Linked DNA regions of Homo sapiens. The gene in region 4 interacts genetically with the main gene of each other region. Each region holds a gene or a part of one and is shown on either strand. Other genes may lie near its edges.

Region 1 (8,497 bases), on a different chromosome or scaffold from region 4:
CCCCTTATATAAAATGTCCAGAATAGGCAAATTCATTGAGACTGAAAGTAGATTAGTGGTTGCCAGGGGCTAAGGGGAGAGGGTCATCTGGAGTGAGTCTAGAGTATGGAATTCCTTTTTGGCATAAAGAAAATGTCCTGGAATTAGTGGTGATGGTTACACAACTATGTGAATATACTCAAAACCACTGTATACTTCAAAATGGTGAATTTTATGGTATGTGAATTATATCTCTATCAAAAACAATTTTTTAAATGTAGGAAAACACATACCAGGCAAATATTAAGCTAAATAAAGCTAATGTAGGTATATTAATATGAGAAAAAAGATTGATTATAGGGCAAAAACATCAATGATACCAAATTACCAGGTATTACCAGAGTTAATAATTTCCTTACATGGTGATAAAATATTCAATTCACAAGGAAGATATAGCAATTCTAAATTTGTTTGTAACTACGAACTTTCAAGATTGACAGAATTACAAGGAAACATTAACAAATTTTCCATATCAACAGGCAGCCAAAACCCCAGAAGAATATAGAACATTTGAGCCAGATTAACAAACACAACTTAATCGAGGTATATAGTACACTAAACACAACTGTAAAACGCACATTCTTTTCAAGTGCTCTTGGAACATTTACCAGATTGTCCATAAGTTGGTCCATAAAGCAAGTCTCAACAGATTTCAAAGAACTGAAATAATACAAAGTTTGTTCTCTGACCAGAATGGAATTAAAATAGAAATGACAAGAGCACTGATCTATCAAAACAGAAGCTGGTCCAAGGGCTGGCACCAAGTACTGGAGGCCTCCTGCTGTGGTAGGCATTAATCCTTTAGTTGCTAGATGATAATCAGTAGGTCCTGGCTATCCTGGGAAAGGAATTGAGGTGGCCAGGGTAACTGGGTAAGTGTTGGAGAGACTAAAAAAGCCTGGGAGAGTGCCTATTTATAAAATGGACTAGAAATATTCTGAAAATTCATATGGCCATACGATTGTGAATCTGTGGAATATCAGCCCTGTTTAGTAGGCCAATTATCTCATTGGACACTTAAATTAGAAAAGAAGAAAGTCTGAAAATGAATGAGCTGAGCAGCAGGCAACTCTATGAGTTAAAAAAGAACAACAGAATAAATCCAAAGAAAGTAGGAGAAACAGAATAATGATGAAAAAATAGTTAAATAGAAAATAAAGATAAAAAAGGATCAAAAAGTCAAAAGTTGATTATTTTAGAATTATAAAAGTGTCAAACTTATAGCAAGATTGATCAAGAGAAAAAAGGTGCAAATAAATAATATTATAATGAAAGAGAAGCTATAACTACAAATGCAACAGAGATAAAAAAGATACAAAGATAAGAACTTTACACAAAATAAATTTGAAAACTATGTGAAGTAGAAAAATTCATAGAAAACCATAACTTAGGAAAGCTTAAGAAAGCTAACTTTAGTGGAAATAGCAAACTGAAAGGACTCTATAACTGATAAAAGAGATTGTATCAGTTAAAATGTTAAAGGAGACACCAGGTCCAGATATTTTACCTGGAAATGCTGCCAGGTAAAATATTTGAGGAATGGCTAGTTCTGCAGACAACCTCTGTCAGAGGACAGAATGAAAGGAAATAGTTCCCACCTGATTTTATGAGGTTAGTGTAATCTTGACACTCTTGGAAAAATCACAGGCCAATCTCTTTCCTGAGCAAAATGCTAAAATCCTAAACAAAAAATTAGTGAAAGAAATTCAGAAGTTTTTATTTATCCCAGGACTGCAAGATTATTTCAACACAAGAAAAACTCTAATGTATTGTACCACATTAATGGGTTAAAATAGAAAATTAATGTCATTTCAGTGAATACAGAAAACATGTTTAATAAAATTCAATATTCATTCATCTTTTAAAAATTGTATTGGCAAACTCAGAATAAACAGGAACGTCTTTAACCTATTAAATGATATCTACCAAAAAAACTACAGCAAATTTGCTCAATGGTGAAACTTAAAATCGGGATCAGCATAAGAATATACATTATTAACATTTCTTTTCAACGTGTACTGCACATCTCGTGTGTGTATATTAAAGGCGGGAGGTCTTAGCAGTGTAATAATATAAGAAAGATAAAAATGAGGGTTGTGGGGAAAATGAAAGCTGTCATTTACATACAAATTATCAAAACTCATAAGAAAGTTTAGCAGGTTTGCTAGTTACAAATTCATTACATGAAAAACAAATACAGTTGTATACATTAGCAACATACTGCTATAAAATTTAATTTTCTAAAAAGGTACTGTTTAAGATAGCAACAAAAAATAAGCCAAAAAAATCTTACAATGGCATGCAAACCTTTTATAGATTAAATTATAAAACTTCACTCAACATGAAAAAGTCTGAATATATGGAGTGATATACCGTGTTTAGGGAAGACTCAATGTCACAAAGATGGCAACTCTCCTCAAATTGACTGATTTACAGATTGAATGTAATTTCCATCAAAATCCCAAAAGTTCTCTCTCTCTCTCTCCCTCTCTCTCTCTCTGTGTGTGTGTGTGTGTGTGTGTGTGTGTGTGTTTGTATATGTGTGTAACTTGGAAAGCTGATTCCAAAATTTATGGAGAAGGGCATTGGACCAAGAATAGCCAAGACACTCCATAAGAAGGACAAGATGAAGGGACTTGCTCTACCAGGATAAAGGTACAAGAATGCCCATTGGATTATTCTTCATAATCAAAAATTAGAAACTAACCAAATGCTCAACAATAGTAAGATGGATAAACTGTGGGATATTCACAAGGGGAATAAACAAACTACAACTGCTTGCAACGATAAAATGGGTGGTTCGCATAAACATAATGTTGGATGAGAAAAGAATATGCACAGCTGTTCAAGTACTTTACATGTTAATGTATTTAATCTTCAAAATAACATTAAGTAACTGTGTGTCTGCTAGAGAGGATGCTCCAAGAAAAAGGTGATTCAGACCTTACAGGGACCAATAGACTGGCCTCCCTAGCAAGAAGTGAACCAGACATTGTCCAGACTTGGCAACCACTATCTAAGTTTTTTGCATCTATGGTCTGATAAAATTTAGTCAAATATTAATGAGTGACTGTCTTGTACACACAGAGCCCCATTCTTGGCTATGGTGAGTGGTAGAGTGGAAGTAGCACAGAGTGACCATTTACTGAGCATCTACTATGAGCCAGGATCAGGGCCTGATGTTGAGGATATGATGGTAAATAAGACCACACACCCGCTTTCTTGTTTATATAACAAGAACAATAATAATTAGGATAATTAACAATTACTGCGTATGTACTATGTGCTGGACACTCTTCTAAGCACATCCCATGCTCCAGTTCATTTAATCTTCACAACTACACTGTTATTAACTTCCTTTTACAAGTGAGGAAACAGAAGCCAAGAGAGGTTAAGAGAGTTGTCCAAGGTCACAGACACAGGGGGAGATAGAGCTGGAACTCAAACCTAGGCAGTCTGGATCCAGAACCTCTGAATCAGTGAATTACTCCCAATAACACTGGGTTGCAGGCATTAATCCTGTTTTATAGCTGAGGAAAGTGACACTCCAAACAAAAGTAAGCACATATTTATTTTTCACCTTCTATTTGATAGAGACTATATTAGGTGATTTATGTATATTATCTCTCCAACTTGAAAGACACAGTTCCCAGGACTATAAGCATTCTAGCTCTGGAGGACCCGTGTATGCAGAGAATGGCTTGCTTGTTTGTCAACTAAACAGCCCCTTGGAAAAGGCCAAGAGTGGCTGGCTGGGCGAGGGTACCTCTCAGTCTCCAGGCTCCTAGATCTCCAGATGAGTGAGTGAGAGAGCTGGTGGAGATAAGAAAGAGAGAGAATAGGAGCCTAGTCTTTTTTCTCTCTCTTCCTCCACCCACACCCTACCTCCTGTATATTATAACTATATTTAACATCCTATATGCTCCTAGATCCTCTAAGCAACTACTGCTACCCCCAATATCCCTAAGCCTGGGCCTCCTCTAGCATTAGCAGACTGGAAACTTGGTTAGCTGGCCTTTGGGGTGTCTGAGTCCCACAGTCCACAGCTGCCTTATCTTAACCCACCTTATGGCCACTCAGGCCACAATCCCTGGGCTGGATGCACCTTGGTCCACCACTGTCGCCTGTTATCTATGGGAAATGGTACACTCCAGATTTTGTTTTAAATATGTACAGGTTTTGTTTTGCCCTTGATCTTTCTTAAATTTCCAAAGTGAGCACCACACCAGTGGGCTGGCCCTGAGAGACTGCCTCTCTCAAATTTCCAGAGCAGCAAGGAAGTCCATATGTGCCAGGAAGGCAACACTGGAGACAGGACATTAAGTGTTTCCCAACCTAGGCAGGTATAGACTCAGAAAAGGCCTGAGAAAGGAGAGGAGCAATACTGACCAGTGACATGGCACTGTTGTGTACCCAGCACCTGTCCCCTGAAAGATGATGCCAGGAGCCATCACCTTATTTCACCCAGGCACTATCAGTCAGGCAAGACCAACTCCCAGACACTTCACAGAAGTCACCAAAATGAAACATACTAGGCTATCACTGAACAGTCCTAAACTAGAAATCTTAAATTCCAAACAAGAAGCATTCCAAACAAGCTCTGCATAAGAAAGGAAAAGTTCCTAAAGATCCCTCTGATTAAGATGGTCTTAACCTAATCCTCCTTTGTCTTCATCTCTCTTTCCGCCTGTCTTCTCTCTCATTCTTTTCCTCACGTTTTTGACACTAGCCTCTATTTCATCCAGTTGTTCATCTATTCCAACTTTTAGGTTGAGGTAGGAGTGGATGGCAAGGGGAGGTGCATCCTTTGCTCTTCTACACCCACTCTACCACCACCACCTTTAAACCCACGGAAGCAAACCCCACTTACAGCCCCTTCTCCGTTGCAGCCTGCTGCTGCCGCTGCTGTGTGGAATCCAGATCTTCTGCAACCTGGTTTGGGTGAGCTCTCCCATCTCTGGAGACATCTTAGGAGTCGCACCGAATGACATCACTGCCCACAAGGTACCTGGCCTCACTTCCTATCTTACTAGCTGTCTTTTCTCTCGCTGTGGCCACAGCAGCAGGTGGACAGGGCTGGGACAGGGGGTGTACTGGGTTTCTGAGCCCTCTCAAAGTCTGTCTTCAGTCCCCTCTCTTCTTTCCTCTGGTCCTAGCCTGCCTCTGCTCCTGTATGTACTAGTGGGGTATTGGGTGCAGAGGGCGAGAGGTTGGGCAGAGGTCAGGAGAGGCCTCTGAACTCCAAGGGCTGTGTACATAGGAGGTAAGTTGGAGCCCAACAAGGAAGGCAGCCAGCAACACAGCCCAGGTCTGACCAGTCACTTCCCTCCAATGAAGACAAGACTAATAGAGTATGCAAATAAAAGACCAAAGATCATGTGCTTACAGCCTGTGTGGGGTATAGAGGCAAAGGTGATGGAGGTAGGTCTCAGCGGCTTTCCCAGCTTTGAAATAAAAAAATGGGCCCAAGTAGAATGTCAAGCTCCAACCCAGAAACCAAGATTCACATCAGAAATGCAAGGTTCCCAAGGACAAAAACACAAACACAAAGTCCCTACTGGGGAATGCAGTGTTTTGAGCTGGCAATTAGAGGCCCAAACTGGACATGGAAGGTCCACTACTTCTCTGCTTCCCCGACCCAAAATGGCATTGCATCCCTTGTCTTCTCTGGATTCTGCTGCCTTCCTTGCCACAGGGCCTCTCCCACCTGAAATGTGCTGCCTGGAGCACTCTTGAAGAGATGGGCACTATCCGATCATCTTTCTACTCTCTCCAGCCAAGGGCTAAATAAATAGGAGTAAACTGACACCTTTGGAAGAGTGCAGCCATTGCCTGGGGCTGGAGGTGGGGGAATGGTAAGCTCTGCCCACATGGCTGTTAGCCACCATCAGATGCCCTAAGGAGAATGACACTGGCATCATGAACTGATAGAAAATTTCACTAAAGTTCCTCATGCCAAGCTATTAGGATGGAGATTTAGGAGGGTGGAGGCTGCAGCAGGGAACAGAGAGCAATGGCCTCAAAGTAGGACAAGTCCATAGGCCAGAGTCATCCAGCCCAGATGACTCACTCTCACCTGCCCTCTCCCGCTCCCCTGACCCGTTGTTTTGAGGCTTTTATGTGTATAACTCATAGAACTGCACAGCTTGCCTCGAAGATGCACAAGTGTCCTCTTACTTCACTCTTTTGCAACCTTCCCACCCCCAATGAACCTCCAACGATTGGCTATGAAGAAGCTCAACTTTCTTCCACTGAGCTGGGCTACACAAGGGCAATCTCTTGGGGACAGAAATTTCCAATCCCTGCCCTCAAATGCTCTCAGTTCCACTTTGCCTTTTAAGAAGTTCCCTAAAATACATTTGCAAGCCGTAGTCTACACAAGGGTCAGATTCCCTCCAGTTGTTGTGTATAAATCATACCAAATTTTTAATACATTCCAGAGCCCACCTATCTAAATGAATCAACTGAGATAGCAGATCATGATGGTTAAGAGCAATAGGCTCTGGAGCAATATTTCTTGAGTGGAATCCTACCTCTGCCCCTTGTTGGCTATGAGGCAATGAGCAGAAGACTAAACTTTTCAGTGCTTCAGTTTTCTTATCTGGAACATGGGAATGATAGGAGTACCTACCCTCCTTAGGACTGTTGAAGATTCAATGTGTTAAAAAATGTAAAGCAATCTGTGAAATGTTAAAAATATATTATCTAACACTGTTACTCCCTTTGGGAGGTAAATGATCAGACACCTCCTTGACTAATCTGAAACTTCTAATATAATGCTGACCATACAGAAAACTCTCAGTTAAGGAAACTTACAATATTATGGGAAAGGGTTAACATTTATAATACACAAAGAGCTCCTGCAAATCAATTAGAAGGATGAATTTGGTTTTACTCTTTTGATTTTGTGTAAAGACTTGCAAGATCATTTCATCTCACCCTCTCAGGTAAGAAAACTGAGGTCTAGAAATATTTTCCTAAGGTCATGTAGTAAATCAGTGGCCAAGTCAGGAATAGAACACTAGGGACCTAATTTCTCCCAGGCCAGGGCTTTTCTTTAATTAATCAAACAAGCCTGATCTAAGAATGTGGTCTTACAGGTTAGCTCAGAACCTCTAGAGTCTCAGAACTAGACTTTGTAAGAGATACAACTCTTTTAATTCTAATAAATTTCCTAACTGGTATAAATCTGTTAATATTAATAATCTTAATTATAACCCTTTCCCTGTATGTTTTCCATTGCCCACAAAGCAACAACATATTCCTTATCTTATTTGATCCTTGCAAACATCCTTGTTAGCCTTACAGGGAAACTGAGGTCTGGGGAGGGGAAGTGGCATGTTCAAGGTAATCTAGCTGGTCACATGAACATCTCTTTTATGTTTACAATTTTGTCCTCATGGCCCTGCCAACAGGCAGAAGGATAATTTTAGCAGCAGGAAATCTGAGATAAGAAGCTGGCAGGCTTTTGACAAAGTCTTAAAGGGTAAACCTGGGGTCCAGGCTTGAAAGCCTAACTTAAAATTGCCTGGAATTAGCTATGAGATTCCTCACTACTGTTACCAATTCTGATCCCAGAAGCAGGAGACCAAAACAAGCTTTATGGAAAGACCTCAGCTTGGCACTCAAGACTTTTCAATCAAGCTTCAGCCTATCTGTCCAGCCATATCTCTCCTTAGATCATCCTTAAACTGCACTGGCTGACTCACTGGGCCCCAAAATACATGGTGTATTTTCCTGTTTTTTGGCCTTTGCTCAGCCTGAAATGCCATTTTCCTCCTTCTATTCCCAACAAAATCTGATCCACTTTTCAAGGTCTGGTTTGATGTTCACTTCCTCTGGGAAGTGACCCCTGTATCCTTGGGACAGGCCTTGTATTTGGTTCTTATATTGCCCACATGCTCCTATCTGAGCAAGTATCCACCAGTATTTTCCTGGTCTGCTTCCCCACTAGACTGTGAACTCCTTGAGTATGGAGACTAGATCTCAGTGATCTGTAATTTGTGTTTCCAGTGTCCAACTCAGGCCCTGGCACAGAGGACAGAGAAGACACTTGCTTATTGTGTTTGTGCAGTCTACATCTCTCTGCCCTAGATGAGATGAACTTGTGGACAACTAATCCTAGTTCAACAAGGTAAATATTATAACAGAGAGCTGTGCAGGGAATTGGATGGGAGAACTAATTTGTCTGAGGTAGGAGGTGGCATCCAGAAAGGTTTCTCTACCTTGAATGGGACAGAAACAGATAAAAGAATGAAGTCCTCTCTGAAAAGGGCCAATGAACTCGTGGCAGAGAAAGGGTTCAGTCAGTACCAGATTCTCATTCAAGATCAAGCTCTGACCTGCAGCTCTTGGTCTAAAATTCTAAAATGGGGCTATCTCTAGGGAAGAAAAGATTACAATGTGATTTCCCAAGGCCCCCAGATCCTGACCCCATACCCCTCCCAAAGTATAGGGC
Region 2 (5,957 bases), on a different chromosome or scaffold from region 4:
AGTGAGTCAAGATTGCACCACTGCACTCCAGCCTGGGCGACAGAGCAAGACCCCATCTCAAAAAAAATAATAATAAAAATAAAATTCTTCTTGAAGATGACAAGTTTTCACTCTGCAGGGGTCTCTCAGCAGCTTTACTATCGCTCAATATTTCTACGTGTTCCTTAGATCTCCTTAGCTATCTAATTTCAATAGGCAACTATATTCCTTTTAAAAGCGGACAGTAACAAGCCTGATTTTCGAAAAAACTCTATGCAGAGCTGAAGAAAGTTTGTATAAAACTCTTATGTCAGTCAATCAGCTAAAGTAAGCTAGGCAATGTGATGAGGGCAGGACATCTTAAGCACATGAAGAAGTCACTTAAAGACAAATCTATTTTAAAGAAATAGCTTATGAACATGCATACATTAAAGAAAAGTTACCTCAAAGATGCCTACAAAAAATGTTATATGACACAACCAAATATCTGTTACCAGGTTAAGTGAAAAATGCATTAAATATAGTCTGATCACACAGTTGTAAAAACATAGACAGAAATTTGCATAGAATAGGCAGTAGAACTAAGCATTTTTCTCAACCAACACATGCACTACTTTGAGTCCCTATTTGATAAAAGAAAAATCTTTAAATAATGTTTATCAATAGAACTTTTTCTGCTACAAATAAATCTTACCATTTTATATTTCTTTTTCATTGTTTCCTTTATGTGGAATTTTCATTCAAAACATCATATTCTGCCAAGGACATCTGTCAAATTTGCTTGCCCAGGCACATACCCTTCTTCTGGTACTAGCACATCCATTTTCTTTAAGGAAATTATCCCTGACTGGTTCTTATTTCAAGAAGGTCATACAGAGTTAACAACCTCACAGTTGCAGAGCAAATTGCCCAGGCTAGTTAATGAAGGTATTCTACATCCCAAGCTAGAGTGATTGGTTTGGGGTGAGCATGCAGAGTATGCCTACCTGAGAAAGAAGTCAACAGAGAAGAAAGCAGAGCTGAGAGATGGAGAGAAAGCAAGTCATGAAGATATCACTTGAGCTCCTGGATCCAACCACGCTTGACAGCCTGCTCTATGAATGGACTTTCAATGACATGAGCATTTCCTTTTTCTTCTTCAGTTTAAGCTGGATTTCTGATTCTTGCAGATTCCTGAATAATACACTTACCTTCATACTGCTTTTTCACTGTGTTTCCTATATCTGCAAACTTCCGGTCTTCAAATATCAAGAACTCATGGCATTTTGCCAGAGTTATCAACTCCTTCATCACATCCAGAGTAAAATCATTCAAAATATCTACATGAGTCTTCAGCATGCAGATACTAGGTCCTAAAGCATCTGCTAGCTGCAACAGCTCTCTGGCCAGTGAAACATCAGCAGATAGACACAGATTGGTCTCCTTCTTTTGCATAAGCCTGAGAAGCTTCGATGCAACTGGGTGGATCCTGGGCAGCTCTGCACGTGCACCGAAGCTGAGTTCTTTGGGTGCTTCCTTTATAGAAAGGGGAGAACCATTATGATTCGCTGCCACAAAGACATTCTCCTGAATAAACCTCTTCACTCTCCCAACTGTCTCAGCATCAACTTTTTTCTGCTGCTCGAGAATCTCCAGCATTTTGGACAATGTACACACTGAGTGGAGGCGGATCCCGTGCGCCTGCAACTTGTCCTTGCCTCCCTGCTCTCTGTCCAACAGCACTATGGCATCAGTGACCTTCAAGCCCTCCTTCTGAAGAACCTCAACAGTTTCCAAAACACTAGATCCACTGGTGACAACATCTTCAATGATTAAACAGGTTTCTCCTGGATTAATAGTTCCTTCTACAAGACGCTTAGTTCCTAGAAAAGAAAAAATTTTGCTGATTCCAAATTTAAATATGTATGTATATGTGCGTATATACGTACACACACTCTGTATACAAAACTTGCCAGTTACACATACAGTATATGTGTATACCAATTCTGTATACCAAACTTGCTAGTTGCACATACAGTATATTTATGTATAAAGCCAACTCTGTATACCAAACTTGCCAGTTACACATACAGTATATTTATAGTAAATCAAGTAAATTATTTCACATTATAAACACTGCTTAATGTGTTTTATGATCAAATTTTCAAATAGAGAGGTTTTTTTTTTACTTTAAAAAAATCTGTTTTATCATAGAGATGAGGTCTCACTATGTTGTCTAGGCTGGTCTTGAACTCCTGAGCTCAAGTGATCCTCCCGCCTCAGCCTCCCAAAATGCTAGGATTATAGGTGTGAGCCACCACGTCCAGCCTAAATACAGAGTTTCTTACAGCAAGATCACCTAGATCAAGGAAAGTTATGAAACAGAATAATCCAGTATCATGAATGAAATAATTCCTTTTTCCATCAAAGTATTTTAAGTTCACTATTCAAGATCAGCCAAATAATTGACTTTTTGAAGACACAAATTCAGAAGGAAAAATATTCAGCAATCATTTAGACCCATTACTACAATCTAAAGAATTATATAATGCAATGTGATTAAATATATACTTCTCTACCCAAATCCCACTAGACTATTTTCAGATAATCTACAAAACGTAAATAACTTGGGCTGTAGACTTTAGACTCATCAAATCCTTTCCGCTTCTTGAACAACTGGTAAGTTTAACTGAATCAGCTTAAGCTAGAACACAAGACTGCAAGTATTTATAGTATATTTAAAAATGCATAATTTCATAGAAACAGTTTTTAAAACATAAAATAATAGAAATAAGAGTTTTCTTATGGGTAGGGATTCATACAGTTTTTTTTTAGCTCAGAAAGTCTCAGCTGGGTGCAGTGGCTCACACCTGTAATCCCAGCACTTTGGGAGGATGAGGCAGGAGGATGGCTTGAGACCAGGAGTTCAAGACCAGCCTGGGCAACAGAGTGAGACCTTGTCTCAAAAAAACAAAAAACAAAAACAGAAAAACTAACACTGCCCTTACGCCACAAAAACTCAACTAATATGTTTCTTTTTTTTAATCATAAAAATTTTCAGAATGCATCTGTAGAAGAAGGATTTGTTTTAAAAAAAGTAACAAAACACTAATAAACCAACATAAACAAAAAAGCCCATTAATTCCTTACTATCATTAAGATTGCTTTTCAGGTTTTATTTATTTATTTTTTGACAGTCTTGCTCTGTCACCCAGGGTGCAGTGCAGTGGCATAATCATAGCTCACTGCAACCTTCAGCTCCTGGGCTCAAGGCATCCTCCTGCCTCAGCCTCCCATGTAACTGTGACACTCAGCTAATTTTGTATTCTTTTTTTATTTTTGTAGAGACAAACGTTGCCAAAGCTGGTCTCAAACTCCTGGGCTCAAGCTATCCTCCCACCTTGCCCTCCCAAAGTGCTGGGATTACAAGTGTGAGCCACTGTGCCTGGCCAATTTTCAGGGTTTTTTTTGTTTGAAATAGGGTCTCACTTTGTCGCCCAGGCTGGAGTGCAGTGGCGCAATCTCAGCTCATTGCAACCTCCACCTCCTGGGTTCAAGCGCATCTCCTGCCTCAGCCTCTCCAGTAGCTGGGACTACAGGTGCATACCACCACGCCCAGCTAATTTTTGTATTTTTAGTAGAGACGGAGTTTTACCACGTTGGTCAGGCTGGTCTTGAACTCCTGACCTCAAGTGATCCGCCTACCTCGGCCTCCAAAAGTGCTGGGATTACAGGCGTGAGCCATGGTGCCTGGACAAATTTTCGGGTTTTAAAGCAAGTCACCTGATAATCTATTGCCATGAACCCACAAAAATATCTCTCTGAGGTGTTTACACTGCTTTATGAGAGTAATTTTATCCATGGATTACTTTTCATGAAGTTTAAATACAAACATACTGGGAAAGTATGTGCTGTTACAACATTTTGCTGATGAGGGAAGGGCTGGTAAAAAAAAAAAATGTTGGAGTTTCATAGATACAGTACCAAAAAAAGCACTTTTCATTTCCTAATCAATACAAAGCATTTCACCCCAAGTCTAAAAAAAGGAAGGTGACTTATAGTAACAATTATAAATTCTACAAGCAGTAACAACTTAAAGAACTCAAGATGACTGGTAAAACATTAGTGCACAGAAGCGGAAAAATTCTAAGAGTATGATGTTACAGATTAATTAACTTCATGCTTTATGTTACTTTTATTTTACCATAATCCTTTGTTTCTTTCCTTCTAATAAGCATTGGAATTTGATTGGTTGAACAGATAACTGTAGCCAATGGCAAAGCTGTATAAGGCACTCCACACACGGTGTCAAAACTGATGCCTGCATTTTGGGCAGTTTGGAATAAAATATCTGCAACCTGTAAGAAAATGAACACATAAACAATGTTTTATTGTAACTATTTTATTTTATTTTATATTTTTTATTTTTTGAGATGGAGTCTCGCCCTGTTGCCCAGGCTGGAATGCAGTGGTGCGATCTCGGCTCACTGCAACCTCTGCCTCCCAGGTTCAAGTGATTCTCCTGCCCCAGCCTCCCAAGGAGCTGAGATTACAGGCGCGCACCACTACACCCAGCTAATTTTTTTGTATTTTTAGTAGAGATGGGGTTTCACTATGTTGGTCAGGCTGGCCTCAAACTCTTGGCCTTGTGATCCACCTGCCTCGGCCTCCCAAAGTGCTGGGATTACAGGCGTGAGCCACTGCGCCCAGCCTATTGTAACTATTTTAAATAGTGTATAAACATGTAACAACGTAACAGAAAAGACAGTAATAAACTAGTGGGGGTAAGTCTCAAACTTGATTGGAGAAAAAAAAACAAATGCCTTTTTATTACCCTCTCCATAAACCCAGTACACAAATATAAATCTAAAAACACAAGAATGAATCTATTCAACCAGACTCAGAATCTGTTCTGAAGGCAACCTGAGATGTGCTGGGGAAGCTCATGATGTTGACCCCAAAGACTAAGGACGATCCCGACTTCCTGGTTTCCTCAGTAACCCATTAGGCTGAGTATCTAAACCTATCATCTTTTAGTTATATATCCTGAAAGAAGCCTTCAATTAGGAAGTTTCATAAATACAGACTATTGTGTGAATTGCTATTTTATAATCTCCTTTTCCACATAAATCATCATATTTTAATGTTAGGATACATATTCCCACCCAAGACCACCTCATTTTTTTTTTAAAAAAGCAAACAGTCACTGAGTTGCTTTGTGAACTAGATCATAGGTTTACACCAGTACTTCTAAAGAGTAAAAAAACAAACAAAAAAAAACTATGACTATTTTAAGTTGCAGAGAATGTAATTTCTAGTACTAAAAATATTAACATATTATCTTAGAACTGTTTTATCACTCTTTTTAAGGAATAAACTTGGAATACAAATGCTAGTGACTGGATATCCACCATCTCCATTTAAAAAAACAAAACGTGAAATTGCTGGACTATGAAAAGTTTAAAATTTTTTACATCTTTTTCCAACTCATATTTTCACTCCACTGTGTCCACAGAATTTTATTCTAAAGTAATATATGATTATACTTGAAAAGCTTTTACTGATCCCTCTGTCATACTTGTCTATATGTATGTAAACTGAAATTTAAAATGGTAATTAAAAAAAAATTTCCCATGACCATAAGTCTCTAGATGTCAAGAATTCTTCTGTAGCTCTCTCAGGTCCTTACTTCCAAGATGACAAAGAAAAGAAAGGAACAATGATCGTGCCAAAAAGGGCTGTGGCCAGTAGTGGCACATACTATGTCCGATGCATGCCCAAGGAAAAGACCATTAAGAAGCTCGTCGTGCAAAACATAGTAGAGGCCGCAGCAGTCAGGGACATTACTGCAGTGAGCAACTTTGCCTCCTATGTTCTTCCCAAGCTGTATGCGAAGCTACATTAAGGTGTGAGTTGTGCCATTCACAGCAAGGCAGTCAGTAATCCATCTTGTGAATCCCACAAGGACCAAATACCCCAATCTGATTTAAACCTGTGGG
Region 3 (7,987 bases), on a different chromosome or scaffold from region 4:
GCTACTTGGGAGGCTGACCCAGGAGAATCACTTGAACTGGGGAAACGGGAGGTTGCAGTGAGTCTAGATCGTGCCACTGAACTCCAGCCTGGGTAACAAAGCGAGACTCTGTCTCAAAAAAAAAAAAAAAAAAAAAAAGTCTGGGCGCAGTGGCTCAAGTGTGTAATCCCAGCACTTTGGGAGGCTGAGGCGGGCGGATCATCTGAGGTCCGGAGTTTGAGACCAGCCTTACCAACATGGAGAAACTCTGTCTCTACTAAAAATACAAAATTAGCTGGACGTGGTGGCACATACCTGTAATCCCAGCTCCTCGGAAGGCTGAGGCAGGAGAATCCCTTGAACCTGGGGAGCGGAGGTTGCAGTGAGCCGAGATCACGCCATTGCACTCCAGCCTGGGCAACAAGAGCAGAACTCCGTCTCAAAAAAAAAAAAAAAAAAAAAAAAGGAATGACCTACCCATTCATGTGGCAACATGAATGAACCTTGAAAACATGATACTGAGTGAAAGAAGCCAGACACAGAAGGCCACGTATTGTAGGATTCTATTTATGTGAAATATTATGGGGCGGGCGTGGTGGCTCACCCCTGTAATCCCAGTGCTTTGGGAGGCCGAGGCACGTGGATCACCAGAGGTCAGGAGTTCGAGACCAGCCTGGGCAACATGGTGAAACCCCACCTCTACTAAAAATACAAAAATTAGCTGAGCGTGTTGGTGGGTGCCTGTAATCCCAGCTGCTTGCGGGGAGGCTGAGGTAGAAGAATTGCTTGAACCTGTGAGGCAGAGGTTGCAGTGAGCTGAGATTGAGCTACTGCACTCCAGCCTGGGCAAGAGTGAGACCTCGTCTTAGAAAAAAAAAAAAAAAAGTTTCTGAACAAGAGGCAAATCCTTAGAGCTAGGCAGCCCCTGGTTCCCCGGGCTGTGGGGAGGGGCTGTGGGAATGACTGCTTAATGGGAATGGGGCTTCTTTTTGGGGTGATGGAAGTGTCTTTAAATTCGATTGTGGTGATGGCTGTAAAACCCTGTAAATATACTAACATTTATTTAATTATACACTTAAAATAGGTGAATATTAGGATATATGAATTCTATCTCAGTAAAACTTTTAAGAAATGTTTACTCAAACATTTAAAAATTTAGGACAAACTATTGATACATTTATTTAACAATTAGGACACACTGTTGATACATTTATTTAACACTATGGGCGAATATCAGAATAGTTTTGCTGGATGAAAGAAGCCAGGCAAAACAGAGTATAGACTATACTTTCTTTTATGTAACATTCTAGAAAATACTATCCAATCTGTACTGATGGAAAGTAGATGGGTGGTTGCCTAGGGCCCCAGGGGCAGGGAGGGACGGGAGGGACAGCTGGGAGAGATAACAAAGGAGAACCTTTGAGGGTGGCAGGCGTGTTTATTTCTTGATTGTGGTGATCTGGGTTTCCCATGTGTGTCTTTTACTTTTTTTAAATATTTCTTTCTTTCTTTATTTTGAGACGGAGTCTCGCTCTGTCGTCAGGCTGGAGTGCAGTGGTGTGATCTCGGCTCACTGCAACCTCCGCCTTTTGGATTCAAGTGATTCTTCTGCCTCAGCCTCCCGAGTAGCTGGGACTACAGGTGCTCATCACCACGTCCGGCTATTTTTCTATTTTTAGTATAGACAGGGTTTCACCATGTTGACCAGGCTGGTCTTGAACTCCTGACCTCAGGTGATCTGCTTGCCTTGGCCACTGAAAGTGCTGGGATTACAGGCGTGAGCCACCACGCCCAGCCTCCCACGTATGTCTTTATGTTCAAATTTATTGAATTGTACCCTTTTAATATGTGCAGTTTATTGCATGTTGATTATTATATTATTTATACCTCTGTAAAGCTGTTTAAAAAGAGTGGGTCTGGATGCTGGGTGGAAATGGCTTGGAGGGGTGAGAACTGGAAGTTGAAGAGTCAGTGGAGGTGGTTGCAGCCGCTCAGTGGGAGACGACTCAGTTTGACTAGGGTGAGGTCTGTGGAGAGAGGTGGGTGGATGACGTGTGCTTTGGCGGGACCCATAAGACCTGGGGATGGATCTGATATTGGGGGTGGAATAAAGGTAGGAAAAATAGGTGATTTTTAGGTGTTTTGCTTGAGCAGAGCTCTGTCTTTATCATCTCTGTTTATCTAAAATAGACTAGGAACTGAGGGAAGACTCGGGGAGAGACACGCTTTAGGAGTAGGGGATCACGTTTCCCACGTTGGAAATCCTGTGTGAGGTGTGTGAGGCGTCCAGGTGGGTGGAAACTTGGTGCTGGGAGAGGTTGGGACGCATCAGCATGCACATGGTGTTTAAAGCAGGAGTGCAGGCTGAGAGCCCCCGAGGGCCTAGACCCAACCTGGAGCGGTCAGGAGAGGAGTAGACGGGGAGTCTGGGCTGGGTGGCTGGCGAGGATCAGGAGGCCAGGAGCGCAGGCTAGGACCCAGGATAGGGGAGCCCAGGAGAGCTGGCGTGGCCAGCTGGGCTGAGTACCTGTGGGTGAGGATGGTGAGATGGGCATTGGACAGAGGGACACTAGGGTCTTTGGTGACAAGGAGCAATTTCTGTGGAGTGAAGGGGCAGGCCCAGTCTAGAGTGGATTGAAGCAGGAGCAGGAGGCGAGGGAGTGGGGTCGGTAGGTGGAGGCAGCTTGTCGGGGACATTCTGCTTCGAAGGGAGCAGCTGGAATGTGGGGGTCAAGGCTGTGTGTGTATATATCTAAGGCGGGAGGTGCCAGCACACGTTTGAATGAGGAGTCATGGAGGAGGATAGCAAGCGGGCATTCGGGAGGTGCCAGCACGTGTTTGAATGAGGAGTCATGGAGAAGGATAGCAAGCGGGCATTCGGGAGGTGCCAGCATGCGTTTGAATGAGGTTCATGGAGGAGGATAGCAAGTGGGCATTTGGGAGGTTCCAGCACACGTTTGAATAAGGATTGTGGAGAAGGATAGCAAGCGGGTATTGCAGGGCATAGTGTCTGTGAAGGGCAGAGGGGGAGGATCCAGGGCACAGGTGGAGCCCAGGAGAAGGGAGTGGTGTGGCTTCCTCCTGTGCAGCAGGAAGGGAGGAAGAAGTGAGCCCGGCGGCAGGTGAGTCTCCAGATCCATGATGAGGTGGGCTTGGAGTCTCACCCACAAGAAGGTTGAGGAAATGGGGCGGGTGTGTCCTGGCTGTGCCCAGAGCACCAGAGAGGGCATTGAAGAGAGCTGCCAGGCAGCTGCAGGCCCTGGCTTGGTGTCAGGAATTGAAGGTGAAACAAGTCCAACTGATGATGTGAATTTTCTTCTCCGGCAACATTTAGTTGCTTGGGTGCAGGTGGGAGCAGTGGGATAGCTGGGCTCCTTCAGGGCCTGGCCAGACAGGCCTGGGTGGAGGATGAGAAGCACAAGCAGAGGATGGCAGCGAAGGCTGGGCCCCAGCTGGATGAAGGCAGGCCGCTAAGCTGGGACAAGGAGGGTGTCTCCACGAGGCTGAAGAGTTGAGTACAGAATGAGATAATGCATTTGCTGAAGCGTCGTGGGTGGTGGCCAGGGAGGCAAAGCCTGAGACGAGGTTTTGGGGGGAAGTGATTCCAAGCTCCGGGGGTGACACTAGGAGAGGTATTGGAGGTTGGGTGTTTGGAGGTGGAGAGGAAGTTGTTTGGAGGTGGGGAGGGTTAGGAACTGAGCGACAAGGTGTTGGATCTGTACCTATGCACACACATATATGTGGACATGTGTGTGTCAAGTCACTGAGGATGGTGATAGAGCAGGAATGGAGAGGATGGCGAGCCAGCGAGTGAGGTGCATAAGGGACAGTAACTGGCAATGGTAGGTGACAGTGAGTAGGAAGGGCTCTAGGGGTGTGCTGTCGAGTGTGGGCATTGGCATCAGGGATCTGGAAGGAGCAGTGGAGAAGGCAGACGCTGCCCTCACCTGCCATCTCTGAAGTCTGTGGGGGATGAGGAAGAGGCAGCTGTCACTCAGAGGCGAGTTGGGGAGGTGCTCCCTTCGTGTGAGGCCAGTTTTGGTTGGGGCAGGAGTGAGGATGCTGGGGAGAGGCTGAGTCTTTAGGAGAGGGGATTGCGTGGTTGGTGGAGGTAGTGCCAAGTATCAGGTAATGAGAGGGCACACCCTGTGCCCAGGGACCCGGGAGTCTCACCTCTGCCTGTTGAGGGACGCGTTTGCCAGAGAGAAAGCGTCAGCAAAGTGCCATCTTCCAGAGGCTCAGCAAGACGTGCAGGAGGCACAGGCTCCAGTAGCGAACGCCAGCCTCATGAGGGTGTTTGGGACCAGGTGGCTCCATTAGTGAGGGCTGGGGCCCTGTGGGCATGAGGGCGCAGGCACCTGGGAGGCCATTTGGGTCAGCTCTCCCGCGGAGCTACGACCTTGGGGATGTGGCGCTCCTCACGCGGAGCCAAGCCAAGCCAAGGCCAAGCCTGTGTTTCAGGGACTCGATCACTGCAGGGCTTAGCCTGGCATGGAGTAGGCTCCTTCTCTGTGTTCTCCAGGCCAGGGGACTTGCATGCCAGAATCCTTCTTCCTCATAGATTTCTTGACTTACCACTCTGCATTGCAGGAGGCCCTCCAGTCAGATGTCCAGCCCAGAGCTGGCTGCCTGTGGCTGGGTAGGGTCATGTGGCTGCCCAGGGCCATGGGATAGGCCGACACCTCTGGTGTGGATATAGTACAGGGGAGTGGGTCTCCCACAGCAGGGGAAGGGTTCAGACTCAGAGGGTCCAGCCCTGTGAAGGCAGGGCAGGTGGTGAAGGCCTCGGGGTGGTGAAGTCATGGGGCTGCAGGCTCAACCTCCTTTCTCTTGTTGACAGCACTGACGTCTTCATCTGCACAAGCCCCATCAAGATGTTCAAGTACTGTCCCTATGAGAAGGTAAGGCGTGCGTCTGCTCAGCTGAGCCCTTACCCCATGCATCACAGGTGAGGGGTACGGGGCTCAGCCTGCCTGTGGAAAGGGGATGGACCCTCACAGCACTCCCCCACCTCTGTGACAGCGGCTTTCTGCTCCCCAAGGACCTCTCCAGCCTGAGGCTCTAGATGGGGCCTCTTATGATGCAGGTTCTCCAGGAAGGGTGCCTGTCACTGTGTCAGGTTAGCCTGGCCCAGAGTAGGCCTTTGAAGGGTGAGAACCATGCCTGGGGAGGGCCTGAAGGCACGTGGATGCATTAACATGAAAAGTCTTAAAAAGGTGAGGTGGGTAAAGTTCATTTTGCTGTATACTCACTTTATTATCTTTATTGAAAAGAATTAGAGTTGCATGAAATTGAGACCTTTCTGGAAATTGGGAACTTGCAGTTGCCAAACCCAGAGGAAAGGTCTGTGGCCCTGGAGGAGAGCACTCATGCCGGAGGGGTCAGGGCCGGCCCTCCCTGGGGACGTTGGAGCAGCTCTTCCCGAGCTGAGGAAGGCAAGATCTTCAGTCCAGAGCCCCTCCTGCTCTGGGGGCGTCAAACCTTCAGGCATGAGTTCTTTCATGTTCTTCACATGACCTTTCCGCTCTGGATTCCCATTTTTTTTGAGACAGAGTTTTGCTCTTGTTGTTGCACAGGCTGGAGTGCAATGGCACGATCCTGGCTCACTGCCAAGATCACTGGGTTCAAGCAATTCTCCTGTCTCAGCCTCCTGAGTAGCTGGGATTACAAGTGCCTACCACCACATCCAGGTAATTTTTTTTGTATTTTTAGTAGAGACGGGGTTTTGCCATGTTGGCCAGGCTGGTCTCGAACTCCTGAGCTCAGGTGATGTGCCTGCCTCGGCCTCCCAACGTGCTGGGATTATAGGCGTGAGCCACCGTGCCTGGCCTGGATTCCATATTTAAATGAAATTCATGGTCAGGCGCGGTGGCTCACGCCTGTAATCCCAGAACTCTGGGAGGCCGATGCAGGTGGGTCACCTGAGGCTGGGAGTTCAAGACCAGCCTGGCCATCATGGTGAAACCCCATCTCTATTAAAAATACGAAAATCAGCTGGGTGTAGTGGTTCATGCCTGTAGTCCCAGCTACTTGGGAGGCTGAGGCATGAGAATTGCTTGAACCTGGGAGGTGGAGGTTGCAGTGAGCCAAGATCGTGCCACTGCACTCCAGCCTGGGTGACAGAGCGAGACTGTCCCCCCACAAAAAAACTTAATTTAAAAAAAAAAAAAGAAATTCACACATTCAGCCAACATAGCGTGCCCTCTGTGTGCTCAGTGGGAATCACACTTGCTGAACAGTTGCTCTGGCATTATGTGGGTGCTTGGTGCCCACTGTTTCATCATGTCCTCATGACACCTTGTTCCCTAGTTACCCTGACATCCCTCATGATTTTAGAGAGTGGGTCTTGTTCTGTCACCCAGGCTGGAGTGCAGTGGCCACTCACAGGTGCCATCCCAGCTCACTGCAGCCTCGAACTCCTGGGCTCAAGTGATCCTCCCACCTCAGCCTCTTGAGTAGCTGGGAACACAGCTGCGCACCACGCACCACCATGGCCGGCCTTCGCTGACCCCCTTTTAACACGCTAGGAGCACGAGTTCACTTATACTTAGGAGAGAGGAGTATCTTACCTGCAGCCAGTAAATGTGGATTCAGAGTGTGGGCCAGGCCCACTGTTTCAGGTCGAGCAGTGATCCCAAAGTGAGTCCTGAGACCAGAGTCAGCATCCCTTGGAGACTCCTTAGGAGTGGACATTTTTCAGCCCCACCCTACACCTTCTGAATCAGACACTCTGGGAGTAGCAATGTGGGTCTGACGAGCCCGCCAGGTGATTCTCATACACCCTCAAGTTTAAGGATTGCGGGACTGGAGTCACTATTTCAGCTGGAGTTTCACTGGGTGGCCATGGTGGTTGACCAGCAGTTGTGGGAGTGAGATGAACGACATGGCCTCATTCATCCGTTCCTGGGGATTTAGATACTGTCTTTGTGCCAGCTGTCCCACCTGCGTTGCCTCGGCCCGGGACTGCCCTCTGAGCTCCAGACACTCAGACCCGATGTATCTGTCCCTGGGGTGCTGGTTTCCTTGTGCATGGCAGTGCTGTCTGGTGGCCTCAGGTCGGAAATCAGGGGCCGTGCTGATGTCTTCCTCTAAGCCCTCACTTCCAGCCTGTTGGTGAGTCCCATGTCCCATGGGACCGATTTCGAAAACGTGCCTGGCACCTGTCTGCTTCTGTCTCTTCTCATTGCCAGCATCTTGGCATTTACTGCCAGTACAGCTGACAGGGCCTCCTAAACTGCCTGCTCCTTTCAGTTCCATGCAGGCTGACAAGGCCCTCACAGAGCAGATCATGGCAGCTCCTGACTTGAAACCTCTGAATAGTTTCCCTTTAAAAACCACATACACCCTCCTGAGCATGACCTGCAGGGCCTGCCTGCCTCTCCACCCACTGTGCCCCCCTCTCTGTGTGCTTCTCCAGCAGCTTTTGGCTTGGAATGTTCTCCTCCCACCCCTAGGTCTGGTGCCTTCTTGTCCACGAGGCCTCGGCCCAGAAGTCTCCCCACATTTCGTGACCATCATATTGAAGTGTATTCTTTCTCCATCTTGTTTTTTGGATGACACTTCCCACCACTTGAAATGGGTTTGTGTTTTCGTCTGTGGCTTGTTCTTGGTCCATCTCCTGACTGGGCTGGGACCTGTGCAGGCTGGGCTCTCACCCTCCTGCCCACTGTCAAGCCCAGCACCCAGCGCAGGGTGGCACACTGGGAGGACTCAGCGTTTGTTGTTAAATGAGTAGATTCATTTGTCCAACAGAGAGTTATTAAACACCGGCGAGTACAGTGCTTGCCATTCATTTGACACCTTTGATACGCCAGGCAATGTCCCTTTATTCTCACTTTTGAGGTTTACAACAGCTGCCTGTGAAACAAGAAAACTCTTCTGATTTGACAGATGAAGAAACTGAGGCTCAGAGGGATGAGGCAGCTCATTTACCAGGTCTGACGCTTGGCCAGCCAGTGAGGCCTGCTCCGGGTCTGCCTGTCAAGAGCCTGTGCCCACCGCCAGTGTG
Region 4 (7,731 bases):
TTTTCATTTTCCTGTGGGTGTCCTTTGAAGCATAAAAGTCTTTTAATACTGATGATGTCAATTTATCTATTTTTTTTTCTTTGGTTATTTGTGCTTTGAGGTCACATCCAAGAATTAGATGTAAAGTCAAGCAGATTTACTCCTATGTTTTCTTTTTAAGAGTTTTACAGTTTTAGCTCTTACATGTATGTCTTTGGTCCCTTTCGAGTCCGTTTCCGTGTGTGAAAGGGTCTAACTCCATCATGTGCATGTGGCCCCTTTCCCTTTAAATCTTTGCAAGTCTCTTTTCTCGATCCATCCTCACTCCATTAACTTTGTCGCAGTTTCCTTTGTGGAATGGAAACAGATTGTAGTCCTCAAAATCAGGTTGTTCCTGAAACTCTCTTCTAATCCAAATCCCCCCAATTCTCTGCGGAGTTGGTGAGCCCATAACTGAGAATACATAACTCACAGTCCTCTTGAACACTGAGGGTGAAAGACGTTAGCATTCATTGTCTTTGTATCAATCATCATTTTAACATGGAAGGCAAATCCCCTTCCTCAGAAACACCAAAGACCTTCTGGAATTGCAAGCAAGCTTCAAGTTGACTAAGTGTGTTCACCTTCCTTCATCTAGCTGCCAGTGCACACTGAAATGGCTTGCATTGCGGGCAGCAGGAAGGATGATGATGAGAAATACAAAACCCCTATAACCACAAAGCGGTGTGCAATCCCTGAGCAACCAAACCTTGGTAATGGGGGATGATGACCCCTTGGCACTCCTGAGCCACGAACTTTTCCTGACTCTATTCTTTCCTTTCCAACTAGGAGTTACCCCGGTCACCACGTTCGCCCTTCTCAACCTGACTAAGTGGGCGTTAGCACTGTCCGCCCACTGCATGGGCACTACCTGCCCCAGTGTCCTCTCCCCTCTCCGCTCTGTGCCATAGCCTTAGCTACCCTGGCCAGCTTTCTCCCAGCCAAGTCCTTCCTCCTTTCTGAATCTGGTCAGGGTCTCAAAGATCGTTAAAAAGCCGCCAAAGTTTGCAACTCGTCTTGAGTGGCTGCTCCTCCCAAACGGTTCTGCCTCTGGTGTCTTGTTCTAGGAGCGGTTGAATTCTCTGTTTTGCTGTGGGTGCCAGCCTCTATCAGCCCCTGCCCTGGTCCATCTGTCAGCTTCAGGTAAGACTACCGGCTAGGAAATGGCCCCTTGTCCTTATCTCTGCCTCTAAAATATGCCACCTAAATTAACAGATCGTGGCATTGCATGGCTCGTCACAGAGAAGCCAAGGCAAATTCTTGTGGAAGGCGGCACTTGTCTGGAAACAGACTCAGGACAAGTGTGCTGCACAGCCAGCTTCCTCAAACCCACTCTCGCCACTGTAGCTGCCCACAGAGGCACCTCCCAAGCCATAGGCCCCTCCTAGGCCAGCTCAGGCCTCACCTTGTCCCTCCCTGCAGGGCGGGGTCTGATTGACTTCAAGAAGGAGTCAGAGATCAGCTTAAGGGCAAAGGCTGGAAGCAGAGCGAACTGGGAGCAGAGCACACAGGTGCGTTCTGATGGGTATTCGGGAGAGTCAAGAAGGGGCTGACCTGGAGGACAGAAAAGCAGTGGAAGGAGGGCACAGAGTGAGGGGCAGAAGAAACAGGACACAGAGGGAGGAGGGCCAGGAAGTGAGGGCGGGAGCCCAGCACATCACAGAAGGTGCCCGGGTGCTTGGTGGCAGGCAACAGCCGGCCAGGGTGGAGTGGGGAAAGCTCAGAGAGGAGGGTGAGCAGGGAGAGGGCTTGCTTCCTGTTCCTGCCTGGAGGTCTCACCAGCCACCACCCCCACTGCCACTGCACATGGGGACAGAGGTTTGTCCTGGGGAAAGCAAAGGTCTCTTCCACATCTTTCTCCTTCCTGGAAAAGCAAAAAGAAACGTGGGTATAAGAGGTTGTAAAAAAGGAGACCCAGCCGTGAAAGGACATGGAGGTACCCTAAATGCACACTGCCAAGCAAAAGAAGCCAATCTGAAAAGGCTGCAGACTGTAAGATTCCAAATACAGGACGTTCTGGAAAAGGCAAAACTATGGAGACAATAAAAAGAGCAGTGATTGCTAGGGTTTCGGAGGAAGAGGTGGAGCACAGAAGATTTTGGGGGAGGTGGAACTATTCTGTGTGATATTCTAATGGTGGATCCATGTCATTGTCCGTTTGTCCAACCCATAGAATATGCAGCAGCAAGAGTGAGTCCTGATGTAAACTGTGGGCTCTGGGTGAGAGTGATGTGCAGGTTCATCAGCCACAAATGTATGGCTCTGGTGTGGATATTGATAGTGGGGAGGCTGCGTGTGTAGGGGCTGTGAGTATACAGAAACTCTCAGTACCTTTCGCTCAATTTTGCTATGAACCTAAAATTCCTCTTTAAAAGACTCCTATTTAAAAGACTTTAATAGACTTTATAAAGTTTGTTAAAAGACTTTTAATAGACTTTTTAAAGACTTTTAACAGACTTTATAAAGTCTATTAAGAAATCTATTAAAGTCTATTTTTAAAAGTCTATTAAAAAAAAAGTCTACTATAATCCCAGCACTTTGGGAGGCCAACGCAGGAGGATCACTTGAGCCCAGGAGTTCAAGACCAGCCTGGGCAACATAGTGAGATCCTGACTATATATATATATATATATATATATATATATATATATTTATTTATTTATTTATTTAAGTCTAATAAGAAGTCTATTTGGGGCCAGGCCTGGTGGCTCATGCCTGTAATCCCAGCACTTTGGGAGGCTGAGGCAGGTGGACCACTTGAGGTCAGGAATTCAAGACCAGCCTGACCAACACGGTGAAACACCATCTCTACTAAAAACAAAAAATTAGCCGGGCATGGTGGTGCACACCTGTAATCCCAACTATTCCAGAGGCTGAGGCAGGAGAATTGCTTGAACCTGGGAGGCAGAGGTAGCAGTGAGCCAAGATCGCATCACTGCACTCCAGCCTGGGCTACAGAGCAAGACTGTCTCAGGAAAAAGAAAAAATAGTCTATTTAAAGAAGAAAAAAAAGAGGCCTGGCCAATATTTAATAGGAGAACACAAGAACTCACCTCATATCCTTCCTGCTGGCTCTGGGTTCCGCCTGCAGCCCCTGCCTCACCTGCTCCCTCCAGGTAAGCAGGGCCTCCGAGAGCCCAAGATCATGTGGGTTCCAGGGTCTTCTGCCAGCACCAGAGGGCAAGACAAGGCAACTAGAGGGACATCCCCATGAGAGGCCATGACCATGGAGCAAAACGAGGGCAAGGGGAGAGCCCTCGGGGAGAGGGGCATGGGAAAGGGAGAGAAGGACATCTCAGATCAGCCTTTACCGTGGCCTCCAGGGCTAGAGAGCCCTCGGGTGATGGAACAGGCCCAGCCAACACCTTTCATTTGTCTATGAATCAAGAACTGCCCATCGTGTACAAATTAAATACAAAGTGCTAAGGGGACTAGTGGAGAAGTATGTTAGTTGGGGCCAAAAACAGCATTCCTCGGCAGTGCGGGGTTTCAGCTGACCTCAAAAGGTGGCAAAGGATGTGACACTGGCCCAGAGTCGGGTGGGAAGGGACAATGTGCAGCTGAGCTTCTCTGGAGGAAAAAAGCCACGGGAAAACAGGGCCTCTAGTTAACACATGGGTTGTGTTCCCAACGCTTGTGCTTCGGAAATGTGATGTGTAAATGCATTTTCCAAAAACAAAAGCAAGAAATGAAAAGCGCTCATGATGGTCAGGTTTCCTCAGTGGGTCACTCCACGATACACCCAAAGTGGAGCTGCTGCACCTCAGTTACACCTCACACCCTGTGCCGCCGACTTTCCAGGTGAAATCCTCGGGGCCTCCCTTGCAGGCAGCCTGGGCCCCCTGGGAAGAGGCTGGGCCAGGCAGAGGTCTGAGACAGGAGTGGATTAACCCTCTCTGCTACCTGTCTGTCTGCACAGGAGAACGAGTTTTCTCCAGGTTTACCCCCAGGGCTTCTGATTTAGGGAGCAAAAGGCAACTACCTATGAAAATATGAAAACAAGGATCTCTCAGAGTCCAACCCACTCATGCATCCACCTTATAAATCAAGTGTCTGTGCCTCAGGCACTGCTTGCAGGAAGTGAAAAGCACAGCTGAGACAGGGAGGAATCCTGAAGCGGGGCTCCCAGCTCAACCCAGAGCCTTGAGGAAGGGGGTGCAAGGTGGCAAAGGCAGTGCTTCTGTAGGGAAATTTCACGGTGACGGCAGCCTTCCAGGGAGGCCCACATCACCTAGGAGGACAAGTTAGGGTCTGGAGAAACTAAGGCTGGGAGACAGCTCCAGCCAGCATCTGTAGCAACAGCGCAACAGGCAAGAGTAACAGTCTCCCAGAGACTCCGCACACAGCACATGGGAAGACAGAGCTGTGGCCACCACGTCTCCCAGCCCTGCAGGAGGCTCACAGCTACAAGCACAGGATTTTACAGCTGCTTGGGGAATGGGGTTATGAGGTGAAGACCCTGACCCACCCTCCCTGAGAAAGGAAAAGGCATCTTCCTAAGATGAAACCCTCCCTGAGGTCCCCTCCTAGTAGCCTTGGGTGGACAAGAGAGGTGAATGGGGCACAAAGAAGGCTAGGCAGGACTGGGCACCTCTACCTCACCCCCAAAGCCATCAGTCTGCAGCCTAGTCACACCTGAATCACTCTACATTGCGTAAAACTTTAAATGGGCTGGTGTCGATAGCCTGTATTTAACAAGAAGAGCAGCTAACATTTCTCATGTATTTCCCATATGGCAGACATTGTTACAAACACTTTATATTTACTGTTTAATTGATTTCTCTCCACAACCCTAGGAGCTAAGCACTGTTGTCATTATTTTCATTTTAAAACTAAGAACATGAAGGCCCAGAGAGTTTAAGCAGCGTGCCCAAGGCCACACAGCAAGTCCTAGTGGCATGAGTCACTGGGACTTGACTCAGACAGCCTGACTCTAGAGCCTACCTTTGAATTTCTACACTAAATTTCAAAATCTGTCTACCTAAAAGGTATTTCGTTGTGTCAGAAATGTAGTTTTGCTGTTAATACAGGTGTCTTCTTCTCCAGGACACAAGAAGCACCTGGGGGCATGTGCAGGGGCCCAGCCTGGCCTCTGTGACTCACGGCACCCCTGGCTGAGATAATACACAAAAACAAGGGTGTTCCCCTGAGTAAGGAAGGCTGCAGGACTGAAGGACATTTACAGAGGAGTGAGGAGAGGGCAGAAATAAATGGATGGATGCACAGGCAGCGGCCCGACGGCGCTGGGGACTATGCATGGGGCCCCAGCTGCCCCAGGACAGCCTCCAGCTTGGGGCAGGGCAAGGGGAGGAAGCTCAGTCCATGGGAAAATTCCATGGCCCTAACCTGAGGGAAGCCCATCTCTGCCCATAAGACAACTAAGTTCATCTCCTCTATTGCATTCCAGAGCCGTGGAGCGAGAGATGCCGGCCCTGGGCTGGGCCGTGGCTGCCATCCTGATGCTGCAGACGGCCATGGCGGAGCCCTCCCCGGGGACTCTGCCCAGGAAGGCAGGGGTGTTTTCAGACCTAAGCAACCAAGAGCTGAAGGCAGTGCACAGCTTCCTCTGGTCCAAGAAGGAGCTGAGGCTGCAGCCCTCCAGTACCACCACCATGGCCAAGAACACCGTGTTTCTCATCGAGATGCTGCTGCCCAAGAAGTACCATGTGCTGAGGTTTCTGGATAAAGGTGAAAGGCATCCTGTGCGGGAAGCCCGTGCCGTCATCTTCTTTGGTGACCAGGAGCATCCCAATGTCACCGAGTTTGCTGTGGGGCCCCTGCCAGGGCCCTGCTACATGCGAGCACTGTCCCCCAGGCCTGGGTACCAGTCCTCCTGGGCATCGAGGCCCATCTCCACAGCAGAGTATGCCCTCCTCTACCACACCCTGCAGGAAGCCACCAAGCCCCTGCATCAGTTCTTCCTCAATACCACAGGCTTCTCATTCCAAGACTGCCATGACAGATGCCTGGCCTTCACCGATGTGGCCCCCCGGGGTGTGGCTTCTGGCCAGCGCCGCAGTTGGCTTATCATACAGCGCTATGTAGAAGGCTACTTTCTGCACCCCACTGGGCTGGAGCTCCTCGTGGATCATGGGAGCACAGATGCTGGGCACTGGGCCGTGGAGCAGGTGTGGTACAACGGGAAGTTCTATGGGAGCCCAGAGGAACTGGCTCGGAAGTATGCAGATGGAGAGGTGGACGTGGTGGTCCTGGAGGACCCGCTGCCTGGGGGCAAGGGGCATGACAGCACAGAGGAGCCGCCCCTCTTCTCCTCCCACAAGCCCCGCGGGGACTTCCCCAGCCCCATCCATGTGAGCGGCCCCCGCTTGGTCCAGCCCCACGGCCCTCGCTTCAGGCTGGAGGGCAACGCTGTGCTCTACGGCGGCTGGAGCTTTGCCTTCCGGCTGCGCTCCTCCTCCGGGCTGCAGGTCCTGAACGTGCACTTCGGCGGAGAGCGCATTGCCTATGAGGTCAGCGTGCAAGAGGCAGTGGCGCTGTATGGAGGACACACACCTGCAGGCATGCAGACCAAGTACCTCGATGTCGGCTGGGGCCTGGGCAGCGTCACTCATGAGTTAGCCCCCGGCATCGACTGCCCGGAGACCGCCACCTTCCTGGACACTTTCCACTACTATGATGCCGATGACCCGGTCCATTATCCCCGAGCCCTCTGCCTCTTTGAAATGCCCACAGGGGTGCCCCTTCGGCGGCACTTTAATTCCAACTTTAAAGGTGGCTTCAACTTCTATGCGGGGCTGAAGGGCCAGGTGCTGGTGCTGCGGACAACTTCAACTGTCTACAATTATGATTACATTTGGGACTTTATCTTCTACCCCAACGGGGTGATGGAGGCCAAGATGCATGCCACTGGCTACGTCCACGCCACCTTCTACACCCCCGAGGGGCTGCGCCACGGCACTCGCCTGCACACCCACCTGATTGGCAACATACACACTCACTTGGTGCACTACCGCGTAGACCTGGATGTGGCAGGTAGGACTCAAAGCGAGACTCTCCCGTTCAAACATCTGCATCCAGCCAATAACTTAAACTCCCAGGAGACGGCACTATAACTCCCTGGTGGTGGAAAGTTAGGAGCATTTGCCAAGCCTGCTTCTGTAAAACCTAAAGCTAGAAATTTGTGTGTCCCTGAAAAATGGTGAAAGCGAACAGTGCCGAGGGTTGCCCTGGATGCAACAGTGTGGACCCTGTCCTGACCCTGGGGCTGTGCATGGGGCAAGGGAGGGGACGGTGCCTATGAGGGTAAGAAATGTCACTGTCTAGCGCTTTGAGATGGAGTGTAGTATTGTCTGGGAATATTCAGGGTGTCTCCTGGATGATATCACCATAAAAGAATGGCATGGGTAGAATAACTAATGCTGCCAGACCCAACAAGGCCACCAGGACCACACGGGCGGCTCCTACCCCTCAGCCCCAGTCACCTCTCTGGACAGAGCCTCCCATGCCTGGAGAAAAATGGGTGCCCCTGCTCTAGGATTGCAGCCACAGCAGATGGGCATGAGCACAGCTCTTGAGAGGAACTTCCCAGAGTGGTAATGGAATCACCACAGCCGCCCAGGGCATCCCCCAACATCCCGGTTATTCAAGACAGTTGGCTGTTGGATGTGGTGGAGGATGGAGATCCTGGGGTAGAATGAGGAGGTTTCAGTTCTGGCAGCTTGATTCTCGTTCTCCTTCTCCCTGCATACCTCC

What was found.
Region 1: changes in AOC1 (region 4) and PFKFB1 together harm fitness more than expected from each alone (negative genetic interaction), as found in Homo sapiens cells (one large-scale study listed by BioGRID).
Region 2: changes in AOC1 (region 4) and UMPS together harm fitness more than expected from each alone (negative genetic interaction), as found in Homo sapiens cells (one large-scale study listed by BioGRID).
Region 3: changes in AOC1 (region 4) and NT5M together harm fitness less than expected from each alone (positive genetic interaction), as found in Homo sapiens cells (one large-scale study listed by BioGRID).

What each region holds. Positions count from the first base shown.
Region 1 is NC_000023.11:54,989,002-54,997,498, forward strand, and holds the start of PFKFB1 (6-phosphofructo-2-kinase/fructose-2,6-bisphosphatase 1), read right to left. Parts: upstream 5,188-8,497; 5' UTR 5,031-5,187; coding exon of another isoform or gene 5,007-5,030; coding exon 4,910-5,006; intron 1,720-4,909; exon of another isoform or gene 1,638-1,719; intron 1-1,637. UniProt on the Homo sapiens protein: Synthesis and degradation of fructose 2,6-bisphosphate.
Region 2 is NC_000003.12:124,733,452-124,739,408, reverse strand, and holds part of UMPS (uridine 5'-monophosphate synthase), read right to left. Parts: intron 4,317-5,957; coding exon 4,163-4,316; intron 1,842-4,162; coding exon 1,170-1,841; exon of another isoform or gene 966-1,169; intron 1-965. UniProt on the Homo sapiens protein: Bifunctional enzyme catalyzing the last two steps of de novo pyrimidine biosynthesis, orotate phosphoribosyltransferase (OPRT), which converts orotate to orotidine-5'-monophosphate (OMP), and orotidine-5'-monophosphate decarboxylase (ODC), the terminal enzymatic reaction that decarboxylates OMP to uridine monophosphate (UMP).
Region 3 is NC_000017.11:17,318,366-17,326,352, forward strand, and holds part of NT5M (5'(3')-deoxyribonucleotidase, mitochondrial isoform 4 precursor), read left to right. Parts: intron 1-4,819; coding exon 4,820-4,880; intron 4,881-7,821; coding exon of another isoform or gene 7,822-7,842; exon of another isoform or gene 7,843-7,987. UniProt on the Homo sapiens protein: Dephosphorylates specifically the 5' and 2'(3')-phosphates of uracil and thymine deoxyribonucleotides, and so protects mitochondrial DNA replication from excess dTTP. Has only marginal activity towards dIMP and dGMP.
Region 4 is NC_000007.14:150,851,030-150,858,760, forward strand, and holds the start of AOC1 (diamine oxidase [copper-containing] isoform 2 precursor), read left to right. Parts: upstream 1-1,487; 5' UTR 1,488-1,529; intron 1,530-3,074; exon of another isoform or gene 3,075-3,134; intron 3,135-5,425; 5' UTR 5,426-5,441; coding exon 5,442-7,011; intron 7,012-7,731. UniProt on the Homo sapiens protein: Catalyzes the oxidative deamination of primary amines to the corresponding aldehydes with the concomitant production of hydrogen peroxide and ammonia.